Homo sapiens: one gene and its partners. The protein of the gene in region 1 interacts with the protein of each later gene in a biochemical or structural test. Each region holds a gene or a part of one and is shown in the gene's direction. Other genes may lie near its edges.

Region 1 (8,055 bases):
CCCTTGAGAATGTACTTTGTGAGATCCATCCCCTGCCCCCAAAACATTGCTCTTAACTCTACTGCCTATCCCAAAACCTATAAGAACCAATGATAATCCCACCACCCTTTGCTGACTCTCTTTTCGGACTCAGCCCGCCTGCATCCAGGTGAAATAAACAGCCTTGTTGCTCAAAAAAATAAAAATAAAAATAAAAATAAAAAATAAAGTGTTAAATGAATTGAATTTAACCCCATGGGAAGAGTTAACCCAGTAACTACAATTTCCATCAAAGGGTGAAAGTCTAATAGTCATTCACTCATTCAATAACCTATAGCAGGCCAGGCACCGCGGCTCACGCCTGTAATCCCTGCACTTTGGGAGGCCGAGGCAGGTGGATCACCTGAGGTCAGGAGTTTGAGACCAGCCTGATCAACGTGATGAAACCCCATCTCTACTAAAAATACAAAAAATTAGCTGGGCATGGTGGCGCACACCTGTAATCCCAGCTACTCAGGAGGCTGAGGCGGGAGAATCGCTTGAACCTGGGAGGCGGAGGTTGCAGTGAGCTGAGATTGCACCACTGCACTGCAGCCTGGGCAACAAAAGCAAAACTCCGTCTCAAAAAATAAAAATAAAATAATCTATAGCAATCAGGAAACATCTCTAGCAATGATACCTAACAAGTGCACAGCACTTTAAATGTGCCAGGCATTGTGCTGTTTTCATTTACATTATTTCATTTAATCCTCACCACTCCCAGAGTGCAAGTGTCTAATATCACAGAAGAGACAGAAGATCACAGAAGGATGAGAGAGGTTGTTCTTTTTTTTTTTTTTTGTGAGACGGAGTCTTGCTGTGTCGCCCAGGCTGGAAGGCAGTGGCGTGAACTCGGCTCACTGCAACCTCCACCTCCCAGGTTCATGCCATTCTCCTGCCTCAGCCTCGTGCGTAGCTGGGACTACAGGCGCCCGCCACCATGCCTGGCTAATTTTTTGTATTTTTAGTAGAGACGGGGTTTCATCGTGTTAGCCAGGATGGTCTCGATCTCCTGACCTTGTGATCCGCCTGCCTCAGCCTCCCAAAGTGCTGGGATTAGAGGTGTGAGCCAGCGTGCCCGGCCAAGAGGTTGTTCTTTCCCAAAGTTCTCTGCAAACATTCAGGCGCCATCATCCTGGGCCAGGCCTGAGGATGGGCACTGCACTAGGGATACCAAGACAAAGACAGCACCCTGCCCTCTAGGACCTAATGGTCTAGTGAGGGAGATCGATGTGTAAAACAGCAGACTCATAGACAGGTTTTGAATAGAGAAGGGAGTGTTAGAGCATAGTGCTTGAGGATTAGGAGACAAAGGGAACAGAGAGACCGGGGACAACAAGCAAACCTCTCCCACGACACCCTTTGGCCGAGGACAGGCCTCGAAAGCAGCTGTGGAACTTGGAGGCGCCATGTGGGAGACAAACCCTGCAGCCTCAAGCCCAACAATGAACAAAGGCTGCCGGGCTCTCTGGCAGGAGAGGAGATCTGACAACGGCCTGGCCCGCCGTTTGATCAGTGTAGACATTCCTTCTAGACTTTGAAGCCTGAAGTGCTCTCCTTTAGCTGTCTACACAGATCAAATAAGCTGGATGACTGCCCTATCTCCACTTCGTTGTGTGGCTCCATAGTCACAGCCAGCTCCATAACAATCCAACCAAACCATCTGAGCAGAAGCAAAAATAATTCTTATGGGCAAAGATAGACAGTTCCAAGATGTGAACATTAACTCCTTGCTGCCACTTCAGAAGAGAGTGGATCTTGAAGTTCGTTTTAGGAAGCTTTCGAGAAGGGCGATTCTGCCCCTCTCCAAGGTGAAGTGGCAAAACTGTTGTCTCTCCTTACAGTTGAAAGCCCTTCCTATTCCAAGGCTTATATAGGACACCCACAAAAGCTGACAATAATGAGCTGTGATCTGGCTCTTGGGAAGGCAGCCCCACCCTAAAGAACAAGGATCAGACTGGGTGTGGTGGCTCATGCCTGTAATCCCAGCACTTTGGGAGGCTGAGACAAGAGGATTGCTTGAACCCAGGAGTTCGAGGCCAACCTGGGCAACATAGTGAGACCCTGTCTCAATTTTTTTTAAGTCAAATAATAATAATAATAATAATAATAATAATAATAATAATAATAATAATAAAAGGACAGGAATCCCACCTCAAAAGCACCTTTTTATTCAAAGGCTCATTCTAGGGGAAACTTTAACCCAGCCCTCTCAGTCCTCAAGCAGCTGTGAGGAGCTTGGAACATTGTCACAGACTGGCAGAACCAGGCATCTCCCAACAAACCCAGAAGCCAAGTGGCATTGCTAAAAAAGATTAAAAATGAACATGAGTTCTAACATCTACGTTCCTTGCTATGGTTTCCATGGAAATAGACATCTGCTCTAGGGAGAAAGAAAATGTGGGGGGAAGCAGTGTAAGTGCTTTCAAATTATCAGTGTTTTGAAAGATTTATTTCTTTTTTCTGTCACAACATTAATAGTCAGGAATGTGAGACTTTTGTGTGGCAATTTATTGTACTTAAAAAAATGCATTAAATGAGTGGGACCTTCCTCTGTGAACCTCCAGATCAAATACAAAGACTTCAAGATAAAAAGCCTGTTCAGTGGGTAAGGACCTCTTGGGCTTGGGTTCCTTGCTCATTTGTGTTGCCTGCCTATCTGTCGCTTTCCTGAGGGGTCTCATGCCCATCCTTCTCCAACTTTTCTAATGATGTCTGAGATTCTGTTCAGAAAAATGACAGACGGAAGCACCTAGCCATTTTGAAGCTAAGTTTGGTCTGAGAAGAAGCCTTTCAAGGCTCAGTATCTGAATTATTCCTGGTCCTGCTCACAGGCTAAGTGAAAACCACTTCGATTGGCTTGGGGGGGAGGCCGACCCCACACAAGGGCGATTGTTGGAAAAAATGCCGCAACAAGCATATTTCAGGCAACAGCGCATTGCTAATTGTTTGCTTTGTGTAGTGTGCTGCTGCTTGTATGATCCAGTTTTTATTGTCTTGGGCACCCCTTAGTTGTATTTTATCTCTGGCACATCCCTGGTGACTAACTAGGCATGAGAGTCTTTCTAAATTAGGACTGTTGTTTCAGGAAGGTTGGTCACATTTGTTTCTTGATTTGGGGAGATGCAGCTCATTAATAAAATAAAGATATCTCTTCTGCTTAGTCAAGATCTCAAAGCAGGTGTCTTGGTGTATTGACCACCAACCGAGGACACGGTCTTGGTCAGAGAATGGGAGGAGGCGGGGACCATGTTCATTTCATTTATTTTTTTCCCCTTTTTGTGAGAGAAAGGGCCAGTTATTCTAAGGCACGGTCAGACCAATTTCCTTTGTGCCTTTGCTGAGGTTCTGAGCTATCCAGGTCAGGGAGAACAGTGACCTTGTGGCTCCTTTTTCGATTTTTAAAAAGAACCCAGTGCTGCTCTGGGGAGCACGTGCTCTGAGAACAAAAGCAACACTTAACTGCAATCTGTGTAGTCTAGAACGGCTATTGCTCTTCCTCCCCTATCATCCGCAGAAGGCTTGGAAGAACAGATGGAGTCTGCATTTAAGCTGAGTGGCTTTGTTAGACCAAAGGCGATCAAATTCCAGAGCCCCACGCTTTCCCGCACAGGTCCCTGGTCACCGGCTCGGGAACCTGAGGATGCTGGCAAGAACGCACACAGTGAGGGAAGGGCCACGCCCGCGACCTGTGGGCTGAGTGGATTAGAAATTACGATGATGTCACAATATGGGTGACACGCCGGTGTCGGTGTAGGGTGCCGGGGGCAGGGGGCCCTGCAGGGGCGTGGAGTGGCATTGTGCTGTCACAGGGGCTCGGGCGTCTTAGGCACCCATGTGGGTGGCGCACTAGAAGGGGCACTGCTCTGTCCGAGTGCTGCCCTTGGGGCGAGGCGGGCATGTGGCTCTACAAGGTGGAGTCCAGGCGGCCAAAGTTTGGAAAGGTAGGGAAGGACCCCCCCGCCCTCCGCCTGCTCCGCCCTGCCCTTGTTCTCGAGAATGGGGAGCTGGTTCGGACCTAGTCCGGGGTCCACTGCCACGCCCTCTTCCACGGCGAGACCACCCCCCTAGTCCCAGGCCCACACCTGGGGATGCTCCCCAGGCGCCCTGCAACCCCCGGCATTGTCCTCCTGCCCTCCGGGACAGGACTACACTTCCCGAGGTGCTTCGGGGTCCCGGGGGGCGGCGCTCCACGCGGGTTGTGGGGGGCGGGGGCGGCACGTGCCGCCGCTCTCGGCCAATGCGGAGCCCCGCGCGGAGGTCACGTGCCTCTGTTTGGCGCTTTTGTGCGCGCCCGGGTCTGTTGGTGCTCAGAGTGTGGTCAGGCGGCTCGGACTGAGCAGGTGGGTGCGGGGCTCGGAGGAGGCGGCGGCTGGCTGAGGCCAGCAAGAGGGACGCGGTCGGCGGGAGGGGCTGGGCCGTGGCAGCGACCCCCTGCTGCAGGGCGGCGGGCGGGGCTGCGGGCCTCGGAGGGGTTGGTGGGCGGGGGTCGCTCCGCTTTGTGTGTGGCTCGGGCGGAGCCTCGCCTTTGTCCCCGCTCTCCGGGGGCGCGGCTGTTCGTGGGCAGGGGGCTGGGCGATCACCGGGCGTCCGCTCCGGGGTGCCGTCGAGGAGACAATAGGGGGCGTGGGCCCTCGTTTACCTCCCTCCCTCCCTCCCTTCCCTGCGGGCCCCGCCGGGTTCCCCATTGTCTGAAGGGACGGGGCGGTGCCCCAGGGACCAGCGGCTTTAGGACCAAACTGCGGGCAGCCAGGGCCGCGACCCTCCCTGCGACCGTCCCCTGGCGACCGCAGCTGGTGATTGAGGGGCGGCGCTCCCGGGCCCCACGAGGGTTCTTCTGTCTTCGCGGCCGGACGCGCGGACAGCGTGGGTGGCGGCAGGTTGGGCATGGGGACGGCGGGAGGCGGTGGCGAGCTCACCGCGGGACCACCCGGGGGCCTGTTCCCGGGGCCTGCCCCACCCGCTGAACTGTGAAGGGGGTGGTGGCGGCGGCCTGGAGGTGTTTTTGGCGGGAGTTGGGGGGGGCGTCCGCGCAGGGGGAGTCAGGCAGGGGCGGAGTTACCCGGATTGGACCGTTAGCCCCGCCCACCCCTCCCCTTCCCACGCGCGCGGGCTCCGGGGTGTTGAGTTCGGGGAGATTCGAAAAGGCGCGGGGAGGAAGGGGGCGGGGCCAGGGGCCGGAGCGCAAGGCGTGCTCTGATTGGCCGGGGGCGACCGGTCCTCTTTTCCTCGCCCGGACCAGGGCCACGCCCATCCTGGGTCCGGTGCTGCGTCTAATTCTCTGCTTTTCTTAAATCTTGTCGCTGCCTCTGATTTTAATTCCTAGCTTTTGGGAACCTGTCATCCTACGTTTTTGGTACTAGCTGGCGTCTACAAAAGTCATAATGTTAAAAAGATCAACAAGAGATACAGCATTTTTCATGACATAACGGCAGCAAATATAAGTCAAAATCTAGAGGTTCATAAACATTTTGCTTGCTGTTGGGCAAGGAAGCTTAAACCTGAGGGACAATAGGAGTTCAACATTATTGGTTACTATTAGCTTGGGCGTTTTCTTATCCACCACGTCAGACACAGACAAAGCAGGGGTGGGTATTTCATTTGCACAATGAGTTGTAGGCAGTATTAAGATGGCTCCGGGGGCACTGTTGAGTTGAATCTGGAATATCTTCTTACAGTTTCGGTGAAATGTTAAAGAGTTTATGGGGGAAAAATTCTTCACCCTTGTGACTTTGTCTGATTTTAAAAATCCAAGAGTTTTATGACCGAGAAAGCTCAGTTAACTTGATTTTCTGGAACCAATATCATATTCAGGTCATATTTCCCAATGTTTATTTAGTAGATTTTGATAATTTTTTTCGTGGTTAATTTAGACGTCTTTATTCCACGTATTTTTCTGACGATGTATGTAGATGTGATGTGAGATTTTTTTGGGTTGATGACATATAGAAAGGCAAAGAAAGTGATTGCATGTTTTTGAAAATCATTTTCAGGACTTTCCTTATCCCAGTTGATTGTGCAGAATACACTGCCTGTCGCTTGTCTTCTATTCACCATGGCTTCTTCTGGTAGGTAATCTATTTGGAAAATCTGAAATTGTAATGGGCTTATGATTTTAGATTGAGATGGCTCAGGTCTTCGCCTTTGATTTGGCACTTATGTTTTGGTCTTACCAAAACCTATTTTATGAATAGGAGAAGAATTTAAAAATGATTATCACTTGAATGTGCCGAGAGCTCGTAATTGTTTATTGGACAGTTTGGCTTAGTCTGAAGCAAAATTGTGGAGTTTGCACAAGTCTTTTGTTTATGAAAGCGATTGTCAGATACTGATGTCTCAAAACAGTATTTATTAATCCAAAAATGTTGAGCTTTGTTTTTCTGGGAGATGGTTTTTATTTTTTTTGAGACAGGGTCTCACCTTGTTGCCCAGGCTGGAGTGCAGTGGCTTAATTATAGCTCATTGCAGCCTTGACTTCTGGAGCTCAAGTGGGCTCAAGCGATTCTCCCACCTCAGCCTCCATAGCATCTGGGACTATCGACATGGGCCACCACACCCACCTAATCAAAAAAAATTTTTTTTGTAGAGATGGGCTTTCCCTTTGTTGCCCAGGCTGGTCTCAAACTTCAGGGCTCAAGGGATCTTCCCATGTTGGCCTCCCACGGTGCTGGGATTATAGGCATGAGCCATGGTACCTGGCCTTGGGAAATGGTATTTAGATAATAATATCTTGCCTGCAAATACATCTTCCCCTAGTGTCAGTAGACTGATAGGAATAAAAAGGGGAAAAAAAACACAACTTTCCTCATCAGCCCTAGTTTAATACATTAAATTGATTTGGGTTTTAGAAAATTATAGTACAGTTTATTAGAACAGGAGAATCCTGGTTTTCTGAATTATAAATATAATCAATTCTAGATATCCAGGTGAAAGAACTGGAGAAGCGTGCCTCAGGCCAGGCTTTTGAGCTGATTCTCAGCCCTCGGTCAAAAGAATCTGTTCCAGAATTCCCCCTTTCCCCTCCAAAGAAGAAGGATCTTTCCCTGGAGGAAATTCAGAAGAAATTAGAAGCTGCAGAAGAAAGACGCAAGGTAAACGAAGCAATTCACAGAAAGCAGGATATTAATTTATGTAATGGGCAGATCAATTTTATTTCTATAACAGGAAGAAAACAGAATTGTAGCTACACTGTGATTATTACATATGCCAGTGACTGGAAGGAAATACCAGTCCTCATTTATTGAACTCCTGTTACATGCCCGCTCCTTTGTTTATATTTTTCTCCTTTAATACATGGTGTTGCCTCAAATAATGGAAATTAGAAACAGTTTCAGGAATGTTAAGTCGTTTTTCTGCAGTCATACAACTAGTAAGTGTTGGGGTCAGAATTCAAGCCCTGGTCTATCTTAAACCAAAGCTCATGCTTCTCTCATGCTTCCTCTTTGAAAAGATTTGTTGCCAGATGATTCTTTGGCACTTTGGTTTTGTTTTTTGAGAGCTGTACAATAACATTTTAAATTGCTAGTGTGATTGTGTTGCTCAGCTGGTATCATGGTAGCTTTTCTCTTATCTAAACAATTCTATTATAAAGTAACTATCTTTAAAAGCTAATCAGAAGAATCAATAAATATTAATATGCTAGTTGTAGAAAATTTGGGAAATACAGAAATTTATAAATGGAAATTAAAAGTATTCATTATCCCGCTTCCGAGAAGCAACCAGTGTTAACATTTTGGTGTGTTTCTTTCCATTCAATGTTACTCATTAACAACTGTACATAACTTTTCATTTAACTCCCTTTCTCAACAACCCTGATAGGATTGATTTTAAAGCTGGGGCAAGTGAGGCACAAAAGGTAAGGTAATAACCTTCCCCAGACCAGCATAGTGATTTGTAGTATACACACACACCCGCCCGAAGAGCCTCAGTGCTTACACTAAGGAGTCGTCTTCTATGCAATAGTGTGAGTTCATGGAGTAGGAGGAAGCAATACAACCAAAGGTTGGACAGTGGAAAGCTTTTTAGACATCAACCCTG
Region 2 (7,581 bases), on another chromosome or scaffold:
TAATCCTAGCACTTTGGGAGGCCAAGGCGGGCGGATCACTTGAGGTCAGGAGTTCAAAACCAGCCTGGCCAACATGGCAAAACCCCATCTCTACTAAAGATACAGAAATTACCTGGGGATGGTGGCACATGCCTGTAATCCCAGCTACCTGGGAGGCTGAGGCAGGAGAATCGCTTGAACCTGGGAGGCGGAGGTTGCAGTGAGCTGAAATCGTGCCACTGCACTTCAGCCTGGGCGACAGAGCAAGACTCCATCTAAAAAATGAAAAACAGAAAAACCTCACCAAACTAGACAGAGAGAACAGGGCCTTGAATTAAGTAGTCAGGAGAGGGCTTCTTTCAGGAGGTGATATCTGAGCTAGAAACTGAATGGTGGGTGGGAAGGAGGCAGCCAGGCCAGCTCTGAGGCTGAGTGCCCTAAGCAGAAGGAACTGAAGCTCAGATGTGGCCTTTGTAATCAAGCAGAGGGAAGAGCAAAGTGAGACGGGGAGAACCATAGGAGAGTGATGAGGTTGGAGAAGCAGCAGGGCCTGCTACAGAGGCCCTTGTAGGAGTTTGCATTTTCTTCCAGCAGCAAGGAGAAGCTATTGGGAGTTCTTAGCAGGAGTAACAGAATCTAGTTGACACTTTAAAACACCACTCTGGCCTCATGATCAAGAACTCTAGGGAGGCCCGGGCGTGGTGGCTCACGCCCGTAATCCCTGCACTTTGGAAGGCCGAGGCGAGTGGATCAGCAAAGGTCAGGAGCTCGAGACCAGCCTGGCCAACATGATGAAACCCCATCTCTAATAAAAATACAAAAATTAGCCAGGCATGGTGGCAGGCACCTGTAATCCCAGCTACTCAGGAGGCTGAGACAGGAGAATCACTTGAACCCGGGAGGCAGAGGTTGCAGTGAGCCGAGATCATGCCATTGCACTCCAGCCTGTGCAACAAGAGCAAAACTCTGTTTCAAAAAAGAAAAACTCTAGGGAGGAGGTAAGTGTGGAAGTTAGGGAGACCATGAAGCTGTTATCATGGTTCAGGTGTGAGATGCTGGTGGCCTGGAGTCAGGTTGTAGCTGTGCATTGGAAGTGAAGAGGTAAGACATGGGGTTTACTTTGGAGGCAGAACCAGAAGATTTTATTTTAGATTGGGCGATCTGAATATAAGGGAAAAAGAGAAAGAGAAGGATTGAGGATGACTCCAGGTTTTAGCCTGAGTAACTGGGTAGATGGTGGCATTTACCAACTGGGGGAAGACTAGGGAGGGGATTTGGGAAGAGTCAGACAGCCAGGGTGGAAGCAGAACCTTCCACAATTCCTCCTTGCACCTCTTGTAGGAGCAGAAACTCTGCTTTTGTTCTGCTTTGCTCCTCTGGCTTCCAAGGGATGGAGCATATAGAAACATGTTCTTTTTGGCCTACAGGGCTCCACAGAGAGCTGCAACACCACCACAGAAGATGAGGACCTCAAAGGTAGGTGCTGGCCCTTGGAGGGGGAAGGACTCCAGCAGTGACCCAGGTACCTGGGCTCCAATGGGGCACCTGCCTTTTCTGTCCCCAGAACTGGGAATGCTGGCTCCTATGCCCCTAGGAGAGGGCTTGGTATAAAAGCTACTTTCCACGAGCCAAGATATGAGGCCCCTGTCTGGTGTTGCTGAGTTGGGCAAGAGGCTTCTCTTCTTTGACCCCAAGTCTAAAATAGCTAAGCTAGAGATTCTCCAGGGGCCAGGGCTCAGAGAACTGTTCCTGTTGCTGATAATGATGTGCCATCCAAGAACAGGGGTACCCCAAGTCCCTGCCGAAGTAGCCTGTAAGTGCTATGAGTCATAAATAGAGTGACCAATCACTCCTGGTTTTCCTCGGACACAGAACTTTTGGTTTTAAGACTGTGATGGGCCAGGAGTGCTGGCTCACACCTGTAATACCCAGAACTTTGGGAGGGCCAGGGCAGAAGGATTGCTTGAGACCAGGAGTTTGAGACAAGCTTGGGCAACATAGCAAGACCTTGTCTCTATTAAAAAAAAAAAATTAGGAACAAATAAATAGGCCAGGTGCGGTGACTCACACCTGTAATCCCCACACTTTGGGAGGCCGAGGCAAGTGGATCACTTGAGGTCAGGAGTTCAAAACCAGCCTGGCCAACATGATGAAACCCCGTCTCTACTAAAAATACAAAAAAAGGCCGGGCGTAGTGGCTCACGCCTGTAATCCCAACACTTTGGGAGGCCAAGGTGGGTGGATCACCTGAAGGTCAGAAGTTCAAGACCAGCCTGGCCAACATGGTGAAACTCCATCTCTACTAAAAATATAAAAAATTAGCCAGGTGTGGTGGCAGGTGCCTGTAATCGTAGCTACTCGGGAGGCGGAGGTGGGAGAATCGCTTGAACCTGGGAGGTGGAGGTTGCAGTGAGCCGAGATCACCCCATTGCACTCCAGCCTGGGCAACAAGAGCGAAACTTCTTCTCAAAAAAAAAAAAAAAAAAAAAAAAAATTAGCCGGGTGTGGTGGCGGGGTCCTGTAATCCCAGCTACTCGGGAGACTGAGGCATGAAAATGGCTTGAACCCGGGAGGTGGAGGTTGCAGTGAGCTGAGATTGCACCACTGCACTCCAGCCTGGGTGACAGAGCGAGACTCTGTCTCAAGAAAAAAAAAAAAAAAAAAATATATATATATATATATATATATATATAAATATAAAACCCAGATAGTCCTGGGAACACTGGGATGAGTTGGTCACTCTAGTCCTAAGATTTTGGCCTGAATGATGGAGTTGGAACTAATCTGACAACCGTGAGGCCACATTTGGTCATGTCCTGGTGGGCCCGTAAGGACCACTAGCCTAAGCTTGGGCCTGGCTAGAGTGCCAGGGCGGTGGGAGGGCATGGCAGGCTGGACCCCCGGGAATCTCTGTCCTGCTCTTTGATTGGGCCTCCTGGAATTGCTCCCTTTGCCTGAATTCAGTAAGTGACCTTGGGCCAGGACATCAGAAAAGACAGAGGAACACTCTAGGACAGAGCTGGGAGAGCATGCCCTGGGTGGCAAGGGGGCACCAAACCTTTTGGAACCAAAAAAAATAGCAGAAAGCTGCGAGGAAGTGAATCATAGTAGCTCCAGGCCCCTGTGAGTGAGGTCAGATCAGTTTTGATTCCGGCACTGCTGGCAACATAGGAGGCGCTGTCACTGCTGGGCTCTGGACCCTGTGGCCTGGCCCCCTGGAACATCTTCCCCGGGATCAGGGGTCCTTGGACAGGCTGTTGTAAGGCTCGTCTGGAAGCCACAGCCCAGGTCTGGGCACCTGCCTGGTGCCCTCAGCTGGGAGGCCTCTCTGGCAGAGGCGGCGGCGTGGGATGTCGTCCAGTGTCCACAGCAGCCTGAGGCGAGGCGTCCCCTTGCCCCGGCTCTGCAGCGCCATGGGCTCGGGGCCTGTCTGGCTTGCTCGCTCACCTGCCTTGTTCTGTTTGTTTTGGCTGCTCTGCCTTGCCCTGCCCTGCCCTGCCCTGGCTGGCTAGCTGCCCCGCTCCGCACTGGGAATGGCAGCTCGGTGCCTGAAGGACGGAGCTCCCGGGACAGAACAGCCCCCTCTGCAGGCATGCAGCCCCAGCCTTCTCTCTGCTCCTCAGCCAGTAAGTGTGAGGGAGGCACATTCTGGCTTCCGTCTCCCTGGCTCGTCCTGAAGCCCCTCAGGGACCCCCACCACAGCTGTCAGTCCCACCCACCTGCCCGTGGTAGTAAGCTCTGGGAGCATGGCCTCTGCTGGGGGTGGGGGGTAGACTGGAGGTGCTGTTGAGACCAGGCAGGGGCCCCTGAGTCTGGGGCCCAAAGAAATATGAGAAGTGTGGGTGGAAAAACATGGCCTGGGATGAGGGGAGTAGAAAGCCCCCAGGATGTGCAGTGGGCCTTGCCTCAGCGCTGAGCCAGGAAGAAGGGCAGAGTCGGAAGTCAGGTCTGTGGGGGTGGGAGTGGGATGATGGGGAAATCGTGACAGCGAGGAACTGTGTTGGGGATGTAGTGCTTCCTGAGTCTCAGCATAACAGTATTAAGAGCATGGGGTCAGAGGCAAGATAGATCTGAGTTTAAATCCCAGCTACACTGCCTTCAAGAGTGTGAAGTTTAACCTCCCAGAGCTGCAGGTTCCTTATCTGTAATGTGGAAATAAAATGGCACGCACCTCAGAGCCTTGTTAGATAAAAGACAAGGCAGTAGGAAGTCTTGATACGGTGCCTCGATGGGTTATCAGTAGCTCATCCTCATATTTCTAGTTACGTCTGTGCTGGAGGATGCCTTTGTCTGCTGCTTTTCCTCCCACCATCTATCCTTGCAGAGTTTCTAAGCACAACCCTCTTCGCCCGTGGGGCCCCAGTCAGGTCATCCAGATGGGTCTGGTGGGGTTGGAGAGGGTGTGTGTGTTGTGGGTGCACACCTGCCTGCTGCTTTTGGAAGCCGATCGAACTCCTTGCTTCCCTTAACCTGCTGCTTGCTCACCTGGAGCTGTGGCCTAGCGGGGCTGACGGCTGTGGGGCCCCCTCCTGGATGTGCCTTTGGCTGCGCTGCCCTGTCCCAACTGTGCTGCTTGGCTGTGCTGGCCCGGCTGGGCCGTGGTGGTGCTGTTCTAACGCTTGCAGTTGTCTTGCAGCCTTTTGCTCCTGTGAGGAAAGGGTTGTGGCCTGGCCCCGCCCAGGGCTCGGGTTAGGATGAGCCCAAGCTCAACCCAAGCTCTCCCTTACCCTGGTGGCAGCCCCTGCTGGTAGTGGCATTCCCTATAAGAGAAGCCCATGCCGGCAGGACATCACCAGCTGTCCCTTGGCTTTGGATGGGTTGGGGAGGAGGCCTCTGGAGGGCACCACCTCTGCCTGCCTGTCAGTCTGAGCCCTGTCTGGTTTTCCTGAGGAACACGTCCTGGCAATGAGAGCTGGTGTGAAATGTGCAGCTTTCCCAAGCCTCGAGAGGTAAATGGAGCAGCCTCTCTGGTACAGGCTGTCCCAAGTTTTTACAGTTCTGGGATCATTTCTCCCAGAAAAGCCCTGTGGAGTTGAGCAGTGGGAAGCATCCATCCTAGGGTTCTGATGGTCCTTTGGCACCCCAGCCCTAGCTGGATTCTGCTGTCAGGCTACCTGTCACCCAGGGCTGGGTCCTGGCCACTGAATGAGGGCTACGAGTGGGGGTGGTGATTGAGACCTGACTGAGCCCCTTCAGGTGAGAGAAGTAAATTGGGGGTGGAAGCGGCCTTATTGGGAGATGCTTGTGAGAGAGGCTGCTCATACAGGGGAGGGGCTCACAGCATTCACGATGTACCAGGCTCCTCACCTGTTAAAGGCAAGCGTGTTTTCTGCAACCTGGTTGTTGATGGAAAGGGAGGCAAAGGCCAAAGAACCATAACTAATGGCTGGGCTTCAGGAGAAAGTGGTCATTGTCTCTGCAGACTGCAGAGAGGGAGACGGGAGGGAAGGTGTGTTCGCTCTTCCTGCCAAGGGCCCTAGAGACAGAGAAGAGGGATGTCTTTGTCATAAGCGATCACAGGGGACTCCTGAGGACTGGGGAGGGCTCTCTGTAACTTGGGAGGTTCCCCAGTAGGTAAATTGATGGATTTTTCTCCCCCACAGTGCGAAAACAGGAGATCATTAAGATTACAGAACAGCTGATTGAAGCCATCAACAATGGGGACTTTGAGGCCTACACGTAAGTAGAGACCCATTTTTTTTTGTGACCTAAGTCATCTCCCAAGGCCTTCCCTGCTTCCAGACAACAATTAGGACCCTGGGGAAAGGGAGGTTGGACCTTGGGCAAAGTATCTGAGTTAAGCCCTCTCCTAAACTGGGAGCCCTTCCAGGTAGATTCCCTGAGCTCACCCATGGTATCCTGGCAGTGGGCCGAAAGCACAGGGCTGAGTGGCTCAGCAGGCAGGCCTGGAAGATCTTTGCTGTCTTGTCTGGCATGGCCACAGGTAGCCTGCTGCTACTGGATAGACACCGCTGATAAGGAAGGAAGACAAGTCACTCCATAGAAGCCTGATAGGCTGCTTTTTTTTTTCTCCCTGTAGGAAGATTTGTGATCCAGGCCTCACTTCCTTTGAGCCTGAGGCCCTTGGTAACCTCGTGGAGGGGATGGATTTCCATAAGTTTTACTTTGAGAATCGTGAGTGGGTTCGTGCTGCTGATATACTCCTGCCTGCCCCTTTACCCCTTTGTCTCTGTCTCCTGCTCACCTTCTCATCCCAGTTGCCCACTTTTCCCTTATTTGACCTTCGTGCTGCACTCCTACTCTGTATGCTTGTCCCCTTGTGCCCCGATGGTTGTAGACAGGCACCTTTGAAGGCCCTGCTCCTGAGCTCCAAGTGCCATTCATTCTGCAGCTGCTTTGTGGCAGTGCCAGTCACCACAATCAAGCTCACTTATTTCTTGCCGGGCGCGGTGGCTTACGCCTGTAATCCCAACACTTTGGGAGGCTGAGGCTGGCGGATCACGAGGTCAGGAGATCGAGGCCATCCTGGCTAACACGGTGAAACCCCATCTCTACTAAAAATACAAAAAATTAGCCGGGCGTGGTGGCGGTGCCTGTAGTCCCAGCTACTCGGGTGGCTGAGGCAGGAGAATGATGTGAACCTGGGAGGCAGAGCTTGCAGTGAGCCAAGATCAGGCCACTGCACTCCAGCCTGGGCAACAGAGCAAGACTCCATCTCAAAAAAAAAGAAAAAATTATTTAAGCCTCACCTCTTTCCAAGACGGATTGGAAGGAAACCCTTTGAGATTAGGTTGAGATGATCTCAGCACATAAGAACTAAGCTCTGTGTCTGCAGGTTTCACAATAGAGGAAATTAAAACCAGGATAAGAATGTGCAAACCAGGGCACTGTTGGTGATTTGCGAGATCGGAAGTTGTGGCTAGAATCTTCCTGACTATGGAGGAAGGCAGACGTCTTGTATAGGGGGTGGGGTGTACATTCTGGACAGTTCATGGAAAATAAGGGGATAAGAAGCTGAATCATCACCCCCTCCCATCTTTCTCTCTGCTCTATGAGACCCTCCCCTTCCTTATTTTTATCTCTTCCCACTTTATGCTGGGCCTTCCCTATCCTGCCCTGAGTTATAGTTAGTCACTAACTTCTCCGCTGGCTCCCACCCTTATCACATCTCAGCTACATATATAAACTCTCTGTTATCTAAGTAATTCTATTAGCCAGAAGCAATTCCAGAGTTTATATTAGTACTAGGAAGGTGTCATGTAGCCCCTGTCTAACATTTGAATTGAACTAAAATGTGAATCTCAATAAAAGCAACACAGTTTTCACAGCATATGCTGATAATGGCAATCCAACTTCTTTTGCCTTTTCCCCAGAGAATCCTGGGAATATCCTGAGCTTGGTGCTTTGATGATTCTATTTCAGCTTTGGTGCCTTAAAAAAAATTACAAATCAATTTTGAATGGTTTAAGTTCATGATTTTGTTCTGCAGCCCTAGCTAGGGGTGAGCCAAGCCTTATGAAATCTAAACTCAGCCTAACAGAATAGAAAATCTATAGGCTTTAGTTAAGAGTCACATGGTCCTGAGTTCAGGTGTGTGATTTGAGCAAATTATTCCTTGAGCCTATTTCCTCATCTTATAAT
Region 3 (7,581 bases), on another chromosome or scaffold:
TCTGCAAAACAGTTCTGGAACTGTAGTTTGAGCTCAGAAAATGTATGTGCTACAAATTTGTGTGGGAATGGAGCTCTCATTACTTTGTCAGGACATGAAGTATATAAAACAGCTTGACATTACATGTGATACCAATGTTGTTGCTGAAATGGCTTTACCACAGTATAAGTTTCATATATAAGTATTTTTTGCTTTGTTGTTTTAGGATGGATTCATTAAGAAACATTATCAAGTCTGCAGGAAACACTAATTTTCCAAGCTATTTATTGTTTGATAATAGTAATTGAGAGCGGTTCTCACAGAAAATAAATCCATCTTTGCCTTGAGCACAACAAATCACAATAAAACTTTACCAATATTAGCCCATCAAATGTTGTGTTGTAGAGCAAGACAAAATTTCTGACAAAAATTCATGGAACTTGAGCTTAAACCAGAGTTCATAAGAGAGAAGTTTATCATTAGTGCTACTGGTTCAGTAATATGATAGATTGAAATTTTCTTCAGATCACTTGATGATGAGTAATAAAATATATAACCATAAACGTTAAATACCTTACATTTTCATAAACTTTGTAAATTTGTCCAACTAGGTCTTTTTCCATTCCATATATATTTTTACCATTCCAGTAGTAACATATCTTATTATGAGATTCTGCTTCAGGTTTTGCTGAATTAGTTTTCTCAACTTTGAAAATATTCTCACCTATGATTATTTCATGTAGACTACACATAGGGGCTACTTCTGCAGTTCAAACTCCTTGAATAATCAACACTTGGCTCTTTGAATAAACAATAACTTAAGTAGTATCAGTTACATTTGTCAACAAATCAAGAGCCAAAGAGAAAACCACTCCATCATTTACCTTATTTTTCAGTTGATTAGTGACATTGCTTTTCAATATTCCCAGCTTTTTGGACCACTATACTTACCAAAAGTCCAATATTATGTTTATTTTCTCTGGACACATTTCTTCAGCTTCTGCACTCAAACATAATTTCACTAACTCACCATCAATAAACAGCTTTCCTCGTTTAGCCAATAAATGAGCCCCTGGGAAATTTACTTTGATTGAAGCCTCATTTTTATTTTTGTGAAGAAATATTTTGTGATGAGATTTCACTTTAAATTTTCTAACTTTTTGAACTGTAGTTTTCCTGTGAATTGGGAATATTGTCACTAGTGTTTAATAGTGTCAGTATATATTGTATTTAGTATATAGTATTTTTTGCATAATCATGCATTCTTTGCCATCTAATCTGATTTTTGAAAAACCCATCCTCTGCTGCACCTTTAAGCGTGACATTCAGAGTCCACTTTTCTCTTTGTTTGAGATGATGAGTGTATACTCAGTTTTTTTTAATGTCCAGTGTGAAGGCACTTGAAATGCTGTCATTATAGCTACATCACTGCAACTTAAGAGTGCACAGAGCAGCAGTCCAAAGCAATGGGAGTGCCACATACAGTCTGTCACAACTGCTCAACTCTGCCATTATAGCACAGAAGCAGCCATAGATAACATGTAAATGAATGTGTATGGCTGCGTTCCAATAAAACTTTATGAACACTAAAATGTGAATTTCATTGCATTTTCATATGTCACAAGATAGTCTCTAAAAACCATTCTTAGGTTGCAAGGAGAATAAAAATATGCAGCACGAGGCTGGGTGCGGTGGCTCATGCCTGTAATCCCAGCACTTTGGGAGGCTGAGGAGGGCAGGTCACTTGAGCTCAGGAGGTTGAGACCAGATTGGGCCAACATGGTGAAACCCTGTCTCTACTAAAAATACAAAAATTAGCTGGGCGTGGTGGCAGGTGCCTGTCGTCCCAGCTACTTCGGGAGGCTGAGGCAGAGAATCACTTGAACCCAGGAGGTGGAGGTTGCAGTGAGCTGAGATCGCACCACTACACTCTAGCCTGGTTGAGAGAGCGAGACTCCATCTCAAAAAACAAAAAATACCACAGTATGGCTGGATTTGGCCCAAGGGCTTTAGTTCGCCAACCCTGTCTGGTTCAAGGGCTGTAGTTTGCCAACCCTTGACCTACTCTTAATATAACAGTGCTTTTCAGGAGTTTTTGTTAGGAAATTTCATTTGAGGTCTGAAAATCCATCTCTAGACCTACATTCTGGATTTTCACATAATTAAAACTTGTATAGAATACATAGTGACCTTTATTTTCAAGATTAGTCTCTTTTCTCTTTTCAGGTATTTTCCACTTGTTCATCAATATGGAAAACTCAGATTCCAATGACAAAGGAAGTGGTGATCAGTCTGCAGCACAGCGCAGAAGTCAGATGGACCGATTGGATCGAGAAGAAGCTTTCTATCAATTTGTAAATAACCTGAGTGAAGAAGATTATAGGCTTATGAGAGATAACAATTTGCTAGGCACCCCAGGTATGCTTACATATATTTAAGGATTTATAAGTGTAAGTTGCTGGTTTAAAAAAAAATGCTTGAACCTGTTTTAAAAATCCATTTCTTTAGCCCTTATGAAATATTATTTAACATAGGGGATATGGAATGACATTTATTGCTGTATTTATTACCTGATTATATTTACTGATGTTTGGAATTACACTATATCAGAGAGATTTTTAACTTATGAATTATGAATTTTTAGCGAACTGAATTGAAAAGAATGGAGCTAAATCTTTTTTTTCTTAGTTAGCTTTATCTAACTTACTAGATAAGAATCCGAGTGTGGAATAGCTAATGGGAACTTAGTTTTTAGGAAAGACTTATTCTGTTATCTCTGATTTTCTGAATATGTCCCAGTTGTAATCCTCCAGAGCTAGCCTTGGGTAACATAGCAATTAGAAGTTTGTGCTTAATTATCTTTTACCCCACTAAGTCCCATTTGATCCTAGTTAAAAGTCAGTATCTGTCTTCCTCTTCATTTCTGTTTAATTCTACTTACCTTTGAGTAATTGCTTAGATTTTAAAAGGTAAGGTTTTAGCATGACTTTTAAGAGAGGGAGTGTGTTTTTAGCCAACAATACCAGGCTTGAATCAGAATGCTTTAGGTGGAGTTCTGGCCCTGCTGTTTGGTGTGGCTCCTGGCAAGCCAGTCTGTCGCTCAGTCTGTTTCTTAATTTTAAAATGCAGATAACAATATCCTCCTCTCAAAGCTGCAATTCTTAAAAATTACTTACTTATTTATTTTTGAGACAGGGTCTCATGTTGCCCAGGCTGGACTCAAGGGATTCTTCCGCCTGAGTCTCCCAACGAGCTGGCACTACAGATGTGGTACCACTGTGCGCCCAGCTTAGAATTGCCTTTGCCTTTTTTTTTTTTTTTTTTTTTTTAAGCAGAGTCTTGCACTTTCGCCCAGGCTGGAGTGCAGTGGTGCAGTCTCTGCTCACTGCAACCTCTGCCTCCTGGGCTCAAGCGATTCTCCTGCCTCAGTCTCCTAAGCAGCTGGGATTACAGGCACCTGCCACCATGTCTGGCTAATTTTTGTATTTTTAGTAGAGATGGGGTTTCATCATGTTGGCCAGGCTGGTCTCGAACTCCTGACCTCCGGTGATCCACCCGCCTCGGCCTCCCAAAGTGCTGGGAGTACAGGCGTGAGCCAAAGTTAGATGTTATATGCAAAAGAACTTTGTAAATTGCTTTTAATATGTTTCCAAAGAAGTGAATTTTTCCCAGGACCTACCTACTCCTTGGTTTTTCTTTTTGGTTTGAAAAAGTTTTCTCTTTTAAAAATATGATTTTTTTTCTAATCATCTTGTGTCAGATTACTGTGAGTCACTGATAAAGTATTTGATTGTCATACCCCTAATGTCATCTTTGCCCTGTGGTGTTAAATTTCAGGTGAAAGTACTGAGGAAGAGTTGCTGAGACGACTACAGCAAATTAAAGAAGGCCCACCACCGCAAAACTCAGATGAAAATAGAGGTATGTTTTGGTTTTGGTGGGGAGGTGGATAGACGATGGGATGATAGGAACTTTGTAATAGTAAATGTCAGCCAAAGATTATCCAGATTTGGCACAAATTAATTTGGTGCTAAGTAACTGCTCATAAAAAGAAAACTGACATTTTCTTGATACTTAGAATGTCAGCATTTTTTTTCTACCTCACCTTTGAGATGTTTATGTTAATTGGAACACAGTGAGAAATGGCCCATTTAAATGTGATTTTGTTTGTTTGTTTGTTTTTCACCTCCATTGAAATTTATTCCTACTTAATTCCTTCTTTATAAACATGTGACTTCTTCACCAGCAAAAAGAAATGTCTAAACCCAGTGGTTCCTAATGAGATATAATTTTGCCCCATGTGGGACATTAGCAACGTCTGGAGACATTTGTGTAGAGGGCAGGAATGCTGCCAAACATCCTGACATGCCATAATGCACAACACAGCCCCCATGACACAGAATTAACTGGCTTAAAATGTCAGTAGTACCACTGTTGAGAAATCCTGCTCTAACCTCAGGTCTGGTGTTTCCCTCCCAGTGTCAAGTAGGGATTTTGATTGTGCAACCTGAGAGGCTACGATAATAATTTGGTTCTTGAACATGCCATTATATGTGCTATGCAAGGTTCAGACTACTTATTTGATCTGATCTTTAACTTCATGTCCATTGAAAACCTTGGTAACATTAAGAAATATTCAAATGCTTTTAAACCTATAAATCTTGTTTGTATTTTTCTTATGGCTACAATAAATAGTCCTGTATTTTAAAACAACCTCAAATGTTATCAAAGGCACAGTATGTAGACTAATAAAAATTTGACAGAAATGTAGCTTGAACTAAATGTGACTGTTCGTTAAACACTGTTTCCTTACCTAGTTTGATTACATTAGTATTTTGGCAGAGGACTGAAAAAACGTCTTCTGACCATCCCACAGTGGTATGCTTGGCTCTGTATATGATAAAATACTGAAAATAGACTTCCTCCAGATTCCCTTTAAAAATCAAATAATTCTCTAAATTTCTCTAGTGTAGCTTGCTCTTTTCAAATGGAATTAGAATTTTCTTACCTTATAAATTTATGCAGTATAGTTTGTAAAAATCTGTAATTATGAAATGTGTTCCGAATTTTTAAGTTATTTAATGCAGAGTTTCAGAGCACTTATATGATTGTCCTCATTTTAGTAGTTCCTTTTTCTCCCTCTCCCCCTCCTTTGTTTTGAACAGGAGGAGACTCTTCAGATGATGTGTCTAATGGTGACTCTATAATAGACTGGCTTAACTCTGTCAGACAAACTGGAAATACAACAAGAAGTGGGCAAAGAGGAAACCAATCTTGGAGAGCAGTGAGTCGGACTAATCCAAACAGTGGTGATTTCAGATTCAGTTTAGAGATAAATGTTAACCGTAATAATGGGAGCCAAAATTCAGAGAATGAAAATGAGCCATCTGCAAGACGTTCTAGTGGAGAAAATGTGGAAAACAACAGCCAAAGGCAAGTGGAAAACCCACGATCTGAATCAACATCTGCAAGGCCATCTAGATCAGAACGAAATTCAACTGAAGCGTTAACAGAGGTCCCACCTACCAGAGGTCAGAGGAGGGCAAGAAGCAGGAGCCCAGACCATCGGAGAACCAGAGCAAGAGCTGAAAGAAGTAGGTCACCTCTGCATCCAATGAGTGAAATTCCACGAAGATCTCATCATAGTATCTCATCTCAGACTTTTGAACATCCTTTGGTAAATGAGACGGAGGGAAGTTCTAGAACCCGGCACCATGTGACATTGAGGCAGCAAATATCTGGGCCTGAGTTGCTAAGTAGAGGTCTTTTTGCAGCTTCTGGAACAAGAAATGCTTCTCAAGGAGCAGGTTCTTCAGACACAGCTGCCAGTGGTGAATCTACAGGATCAGGACAGAGACCTCCAACCATAGTCCTTGATCTTCAAGTAAGAAGAGTTCGTCCTGGAGAATATCGGCAGAGAGATAGCATAGCCAGCAGAACTCGGTCTAGGTCTCAGACACCAAACAACACTGTCACCTATGAAAGTGAACGAGGAGGTTTTAGGCGTACATTTTCACGTTCTGAGCGGGCAGGTGTGAGAACCTATGTCAGTACCATCAGAATTCCCATTCGTAGAATCTTAAATACTGGTTTAAGTGAGACTACATCTGTTGCAATTCAGACCATGTTAAGGCAGATAATGACAGGTTTTGGTGAGTTAAGCTATTTTATGTACAGTGATAGCGACTCAGAGCCTACTGGCTCAGTCTCAAATCGAAATATGGAAAGGGCAGAGTCACGGAGTGGAAGAGGAGGTTCTGGTGGTGGTAGTAGTTCTGGTTCCAGTTCGAGTTCCAGTTCCAGTTCGAGTTCCAGTTCCAGTTCAAGTTCCAGTTCCAGTCCTAGTTCCAGTTCCGGTGGTGAAAGTTCAGAAACTAGCTCAGATTTATTTGAAGGCAGTAATGAAGGAAGCTCATCATCAGGCTCATCAGGTGCCAGGCGAGAGGGTCGACATAGGGCCCCAGTCACATTTGATGAAAGTGGCTCTTTGCCCTTCCTTAGCCTGGCTCAGTTTTTCCTCTTAAATGAGGATGATGATGACCAACCTAGAGGACTCACCAAAGAACAGATTGACAACTTGGCAATGAGAAGTTTTGGTGAAAATGATGCATTAAAAACCTGTAGTGTTTGCATTACAGAATATACAGAAGGCAACAAACTTCGTAAACTACCTTGTTCCCATGAGTACCATGTCCACTGCATCGATCGCTGGTTATCTGAGAATTCTACCTGTCCTATTTGTCGCAGAGCAGTCTTAGCTTCTGGTAACAGAGAAAGTGTTGTGTAATTAAGATCTGAACTCTCAGCTATGTAGCTGATATAGTGATGGGCAAACAGGAATCACTTGCTTTTATGTCCACTTTTTGAGTGGTACTTAAATGTAAAGTAACAACCTGAATTGAGTCATTGCTTTCTGAAGGAATCATTGTCCTTTCTCCAGTTTTTGTTCCAGAATAAAAGGAAATATTTTAAAAGCCACGTTATAGGACCTAAAAATCTGATTTCCGTACCAGTTAAATTGGTAGCATCACTGTTACTGATAATTTATCATATACACTTGTCAATTTTTCCTTTGTTATCTTAAAAGATCTGCCTTAGCAATGGCTCCTTTTTCATGTTGATCTTTAAATTTTCCCACACCATAAGAGAGGAGCAAAGGAAATTACCAGTTTAGACTAAGTTACAGTATGTGTTTCATAAGTGATTAAAGCTATATCATTCCCAGTTATTAGTTAACACAAATTCAGCCACATTCTGAGTATTGTTTGTTCACCTTTCAGACTTGGTGATACTGGACATGTCAGTGTAAATAACACTAAGGTTAGGATCTTCTAAGTGTATAACTGTCTCCTAAGCCCATCACTGTGGCACACTGTAGAGTGAGCTTATAGTTTAATTGAGATATTTATCTTGTGGAAATATTAAAAAGCCTATGCTTGTGTAAGTGAAAAAAAATCACATTCATTTGTTTAAAAATGTAAAGCTATTTTGTAGAGGCTCAGTACTTTTCCAATGCACTGTTGTATGAATGCATTAAAAATTGTAAAGTACCATGCTTAGAACTGAGAAAACTGCTTTTTGTGAGCCAACATAGTAACAAAC

Evidence for each region. Proteins that work in one complex are often made in the same cells at the same time.
Region 2: of the proteins of STMN1 (region 1) and CAMK2G, one has a biochemical effect on the other in vitro, tested with the Homo sapiens proteins (one study listed by BioGRID).
Region 3: the proteins of STMN1 (region 1) and RLIM form a complex in vitro, tested with the Homo sapiens proteins (one study listed by BioGRID).

Annotation. Positions count from the first base shown.
Region 1 is NC_000001.11:25,902,695-25,910,749, reverse strand, and holds the start of STMN1 (stathmin), read left to right. Parts: upstream 1-4,330; 5' UTR 4,331-4,361; exon of another isoform or gene 4,362-4,388; intron 4,389-4,704; exon of another isoform or gene 4,705-4,898; intron 4,899-6,011; 5' UTR 6,012-6,073; coding exon 6,074-6,086; intron 6,087-6,936; coding exon 6,937-7,109; intron 7,110-8,055. UniProt on the Homo sapiens protein: Involved in the regulation of the microtubule (MT) filament system by destabilizing microtubules. Prevents assembly and promotes disassembly of microtubules. Phosphorylation at Ser-16 may be required for axon formation during neurogenesis.
Region 2 is NC_000010.11:73,815,556-73,823,136, reverse strand, and holds part of CAMK2G (calcium/calmodulin-dependent protein kinase type II subunit gamma), read left to right. Parts: intron 1-1,406; coding exon 1,407-1,455; intron 1,456-3,491; coding exon 3,492-3,605; intron 3,606-4,241; exon of another isoform or gene 4,242-4,869; coding exon of another isoform or gene 4,870-4,928; intron 4,929-5,582; coding exon 5,583-5,658; intron 5,659-6,019; coding exon 6,020-6,114; coding exon of another isoform or gene 6,115-6,428; exon of another isoform or gene 6,429-7,270; intron 7,271-7,581.
Region 3 is NC_000023.11:74,590,625-74,598,205, reverse strand, and holds part of RLIM (E3 ubiquitin-protein ligase RLIM), read left to right. Parts: intron 1-2,205; 5' UTR 2,206-2,228; coding exon 2,229-2,397; intron 2,398-3,816; coding exon 3,817-3,900; intron 3,901-5,144; coding exon 5,145-6,766; 3' UTR 6,767-7,581. UniProt on the Homo sapiens protein: E3 ubiquitin-protein ligase.